Regions from separate parts of the Homo sapiens genome. Here region 1 is linked to region 2. Evidence: fine-mapped expression QTL. A gene starts in region 2. The other region holds a variant in brackets. All regions are shown on one strand. Distances are between the middles of the regions.

What was found.
Region 1: its variant is fine-mapped to the expression of STX7 in whole blood (TOPMed, PIP above 0.99).

What each region holds. Positions count from the first base shown.
Region 1 is chr6:132,456,767-132,459,613 of GRCh38, reverse strand. STX7 (syntaxin 7) reads left to right here. Exons shown (of 10, transcript NM_003569.3): 10 at 1-2,847. Among named protein-coding and RNA genes, the nearest start is that of STX7, 55 kb to the left of the region's middle. The variant T/C (reference allele first, on the strand shown) is at 1,307.
Region 2 is chr6:132,511,740-132,514,662 of GRCh38, reverse strand. It overlaps STX7 (syntaxin 7), which reads left to right and starts at 1,547. Exons shown (of 10, transcript NM_003569.3): 1 at 1,547-1,656. RefSeq lists enhancers at 1,241-1,440, 1,798-2,299 and a silencer at 1,591-2,080.

The DNA of each region.
Region 1 (2,847 bases), 55 kb after region 2:
GTGTTTAACTTGGCAAGCTCTGAGACTTCAAATGGGAACAAATAGTAAGTAGCTAAGTAAACCACATCTTTGCAACCAAAATAAAGATGAGTTAAAAGGTATCTGGTTAGGCCTATTTCATGAGGACTATGCTCTGGTGGGACCACAGGTCACCTGATACTTAGTGCTGTGCTGCCTGAAACCTCAGCATGGAGACATCACCACATGCACTGTGGCCATTCAGCATCTTTCTGGAGCACCAGTTCACTCCAGGTTTTTATTTTAGGGTGTCATCGATTTTACCTACTTTGTCAGACTGGTAGAAGTTGCTTTGCATATCAGAAAAACTCCATTTTTTTCCACAAAAGGGATTACAGAAAACTCTTTTGTGAGTGAGTGATTGGAACTTAGAGACTCCTGTTGCCAGAATCAGACTGCCCTAGAACAGAATGGACAATGCAGGGAGGAGAATTCACACAAACAGCACCTGTTCTGAGGCCTGTGCCAGCCCACCAGGCCTGCTCAAATGTGGTCTTTACTTCAAGTGCACAGAGGCACATGAGGTTTCTGGTGATAAACCAGCGTCTTACCGCTGTTTTAAAGTCCCATCCCCATGGCTTTCACAATCAGTTCCGTTTTTTTTGCTGTACTTGATAAAATGTTTATTCTCATACAGGTCAAGTACATTTACTTCTATTCACAGTGAGTACCCAATAACAACAAAAGCGCTTACAAATTTGGGGGGCGTGATTTTAGTACCTTTATTTGAAGTGTAATCATTTTAAATTATTATTATTTTAACTGGGGCAGTTATCAGTGGTTTAAACAGGAACTTTAGTGGCTTCAATTTGTTTAAGAAACATATTAAGTTTGAGGGAAAAATTTCCCATGAAATATTTGGAACGTAAGAGTAGTATTGATTAGAGAAAATTAAATAAGAAACATAGTATGGTAGCCAAATTTTTTAAAAAATCTTGAACTTTTCTGTAGGTCAGTTTTAGAACTGCTGTGAAAAGTGAAGGTTGCCCTGTGGAGATTAAAATTAGAGTTGTTTTCATAACTGACAGCATGGTGAATCCATTTGAGTCAAAGTGAAGAATTTCCTCATCAAGTGACTATACATTTGTTTTTGTGTGCTCAAAAGAAATACTCAAACACAGACTGATATTAACCAGCCAGGTAAATTGAACGACAATGTGGCATTAGGTATTTGGCTGTTTATTGGTCGTTAAATACTATGGTTTTGCAATATGATTGATGGTAAAAGAGTGATGTCATATTGATACTAGAGTAGCTTGTTTTTTTAGTAGGTGTGGGACCATCTCTT[T/C]TACAAGTGCAACTCAGTCTAGGACAGCCATGGATGCAGTGTCTGGAGTTGGACCCTCTGAGCCCGCTGGCTGCCCCAGTAGCATCTGCATTGGTGACCAAGGACACTGCACTTTGAAGAGGTCGCCACTGGGTTATTTAGTGTCTTCACTGCTTTTGTTAAAAATTGTAAAATTTTGTACACAAAAAGTTGTGTTTTTGAATATCAATTGTTTAGACACACCTACAATGATAAATAAGTGCCTTTAAAGGCCCCTCTTTCCATGAAATACATCTGTGGTTTAGCAAGGAAAGTACAAAATAGTTTATGTAGTTGGTATAATTTTTATTTGTGTCTTCATGTAGAAAAAATGAATGTCATAATAAAATATAAAACTTACGTAAAGAAAATAAAGTCATTGTCCACCTTAATAGCTAAGGTCCACAAGGGTAACTTATGCAGCATTTATTTTTTTTGAAAGTCAAAATTGAATTTATTTCTTTCACATGGCTGGTTTGCTGCAATATGAAGTTTCAGAATGGGCTGAAGTAAGTTGATTGAGGGATTTGAGTTGAATGACATTTTCAAGTTCATTTAAATATGATAAAAATTCATTGGTGGTAAATAACATCTGTCTTTCCTGGAAAAAAAAAAGTTGTGTATTTTCATGATTCAGTTAAAACAAAAAATGAGCCTGTGAATCCCAGGCCTTTTTAGTCCTCCATAACATTTGAACAGTTTGACTTGTCAGCAAAGAAATACACTTATCAAATTTTAAACCAATGGGAGCCTGAAAGTGTTACAGTGTACTGCTTCTTTGACAAAATTCTGTTTAACAACTACCCTAACATAATTTATAAATCAATTAAGATAAAACCATTTTTTTCTGAGTATTTAGGAATTTGTGTCCTCAAAATACTGTGACATGAAAGATAGGAAAGAAATTACCTGGTTGCCAGACATGCACGATTATCTTTCCTCATTTCAGCTGGATTTTCCAAAGTCAGTAGATTGGATAAAGCAGCATCTCATTCACTGAGGTCACAAGATAGGTAGGAAACTTCTTTAATGTGAATTTTGCATATTTTAACAATTCAGTTAGAAAAACAGAAACCACTTGATGGATTATAAGTGTAAAGTGTTTTAACATAGGGAATTAGACATCAAAAGGGTGGGTGAGGAAGGTGTCTGCGGCCCCAAAGTGGGTGGATCTCAGGAGCTGGCCCAGGCACTGCTGTGACTCTTGAGAACATCCAGAAGGCTGTGCTGTTGGCGTGCAGCACTGACAGTGTGTCTCAGGGAGCTGTCCCCAGCTGTCAGCTGTTAATAGCTCCAAAGCCAGTGCCTTGCAAGAGATTTTGAAACTGCTGTGAAACTCATGTCCTCTGCCCGCCTACACTTCTGTCTGCAGTGGCCTCTGAGGAAAGATGGTCTCTCCTTTTCTCATGGTCAACTCTCAACTTAGAACCAGAGACAGAAGGAGTTTGTGGGAAGTGTGGTTTCTGGTCTACCTGCACTGCAGAGGACATTCTAGAAAGAGAAGTGAGTTGACAGTCTAGCAT
Region 2 (2,923 bases):
AATTACAAGCTTTCAGTCATAGGTAACTTCTGCACATGGAAATGATTTATTTTGGGAGATGTGACATTATCACTCATCAAATTAGGAGACTTTTAAAGCCCTACCACTTTCAAGACACCTGGCTGAATTTAACTTGGTAGCAGCCAGATTCACAGATGGAATACTGTGTCAGGAACTCTTAGTAATTCATTTATCTTAATACTTCTAAATTTTGCAAGTTTGTCTAGACTATAATTCTTTTTTTTCCCATTTGAATACCAAAGGATGAAATCTTATTCTAAGTTTTCAAAAGACCTGGAAGGAATCCACTCATAACATATTTTAAAACAAGGAATTGGAATGAGCCCAAGATGAGGGCTCAGACAGCTAAGTTTTGGGCCCAGCATAGTCAGTAACTATCAGGGTAACTTGAAGAGGCCACTTAATCTCAGGTTCTTCTGTAGTGCATTGTACCTTCCCTCCCCGGAGCCCAGAGTTCTATCAAAGGTAATATGAATGGGTATTTGGAAAGTGCACTAAACCTCACATGGATGTAAGATCCTTTCATGTGTTCCTTCAATGATTGAAATGTTTCTTCCTACGTTCACCAGCCACTTCCTAATTCTCAAGTACAATGCACTACTTTCAGTTCTTTATTTACTTGAACTTTGTGTAACAGGTGACATCATGGACAATTCCCTCCTTTTTTCCTTCATTCTCTAGTTTACCTTTTCCTGGTTTATTTCCTATCTTGTGGGTTACTCGTTTTCAGGGTTATTCTTTCTCTGTCCATCTCTCTTAAGCAGACAACATTCCACACTTAGTGTTGGTGAGTTCCAATCAGAATTCTATCCTGGGTTTTGTTTTTTTCCACCTAAGTGCGTCTGGACTTTTGATATCACCTATCCGGGTAATCATTTTAGAAAATAGTGTTGCCTTAATATAGGCAAAGGCTAAGCCAATCTATCTTCTAATTAATTTGGAGAGGGCTTTCTTTCATTTGTAGCAATTGATGCTTTTCATCTAACAATTACAATATATTTGCATATTTATCATTGGAACTGTCTCTGCTTGTTTTAAACCCTGTGAAAACTACGCCCTGCTTTTCAGGAATGCTTAGAATGACTTGTATGTACTAGGAAAACTTGTTTACAAGTGAGCACCCAGAGATGACTCTTCACTTATTCCTTCATTGTTCCTGCTAGGATTGTGTACTCGCCTTTGCATTTTTCGATAGAGCTGTCAACGCGATCTACTGCAGTTAAAGGTTAGCAAACAAGACAGGCAAGAGCTAATGGGGCGGGGTGAAGACCCGCGTGCAAGAAGGCTGGCTTCACCAGATAAAGAAGACAACTGTCCTCCATTCTGTCCTTTTTTGCACGCAGGCTAAGAGGCGTTCACCATCTCTACGTCAGGCTTCAAAGAACAGCTCCCTTGCAATTTTGCTGATACCCCCATTCCTTAGCTTGGAACCGGAGGGGCGGTGAGGGCCGCTGTCACTCAGCCCCGCGGGCCAATAGAAAAGGGGTGAACCCCGCCTTCTTCCTGAGTTGTGCTGCGGGCATGCGCACTGGGCGTCCCCACGCCACCGCCCATCAGCTGAGAATTGCAGCTGAGGGCTCCGGGGTAGGTGGGTGACGGCGGTCGGAGGTGTAGGAGGGAGCCGTGGAGGTCCAGGTAAGAGGACCCTGGGGAGGGGGCTCCCTGGCCGGGCGACAGGGAGGCGCGGTGCCCCTGCGGCTGCTGCGCCTTCTTGTTTGTGCGCGTGGTCAGGTGGCCGCCGCCCTGCGCTCTGCAGCAGGCACTCGGGAGGCTAGGAAGGGCGGGACTGCCCCAGCTCCCGGAGCGCCTGCGGCTCCCCACGCCCCCCGGCCGGGTGCAAGGGCGCGGCGCGTTCCGCATTCCGGGTGCGCGCGGCTGTGGTCAGGTGGGCCTACCCAGCCACGCACCCGCCGCGGTCCCCTGGGCAGAGCTCCGGAGGCGCACGGCTGGCGGAGCGCACCCCGGGGAGGGCGCCAGAGCCGGCTGGGGCCCAGCTCAGGAATCCAGACACGACCAAATGACCTCTTCCTCTTTTCAACTCACGGATTGAAAAACACACTAAACTTCCCGAATATAGAGGAACTGAAAAATGTATGGCTGTAGCAGGCGAACCGTGTATGTTTATTTATTCAGAGGATCGTAGTATTGTTTTTTTAATTTGGCTTGATGACTTTAACATACTTTGACATTCTTTGAGTATACACCTTTAATTAATTTACATAAAAACCTTTAAACGTACATAAAATATTTCTAGTATTTCCTCCACCTTGTTTTCTAGTTACTTTCTTTAAATTCAGACAAAGAAAAAAAGTTGCATTTCTGATCAAATGCTGTGTGTTTTTTCCCACAAATTTCTTACATTTGTTTGGCTCTTATCTGTATACGTTAATTTTTGTTTACCTCAGATCGTTGTATTCTGACTATAATTATATATAATATATAAAACTTGCCCAGAATCTGGAAGAAAAGAAAGTAATTATGAAATGCTGTGCTATTTAATAATGTTGGAAGTGGACATTTCTTCTGCAGGTTCTCTGAGCACACCTGGGCAGAGGCTGATAACGGTGTTAAACTGTGTTTTGTGTTGTGGACAGGCCTTATAGGCTACTTTGAGAAGTTGGCCTCAGACTCGTGACTAGTTAAGAATTATGCTCTTAACTTCACAGTTTCTGTAGAGGTTAATATGATACCATATTAACTGATTAACATCATAATTTTTCCTCAGATATGTTACTTATGTTGCTCTTGATAACAAAATCAATCCTTATTTTGGTTATGACCCCAAACTTTAAGTGCTGATGATTGAAAAGTAAATTATAGAAAATATTCACAGTAAGTCTGAGTGAAGTTTGCTGTGATTCCATTTAATTTGCAAGTTTCATGTGTGAAAGTATGAAAAAAA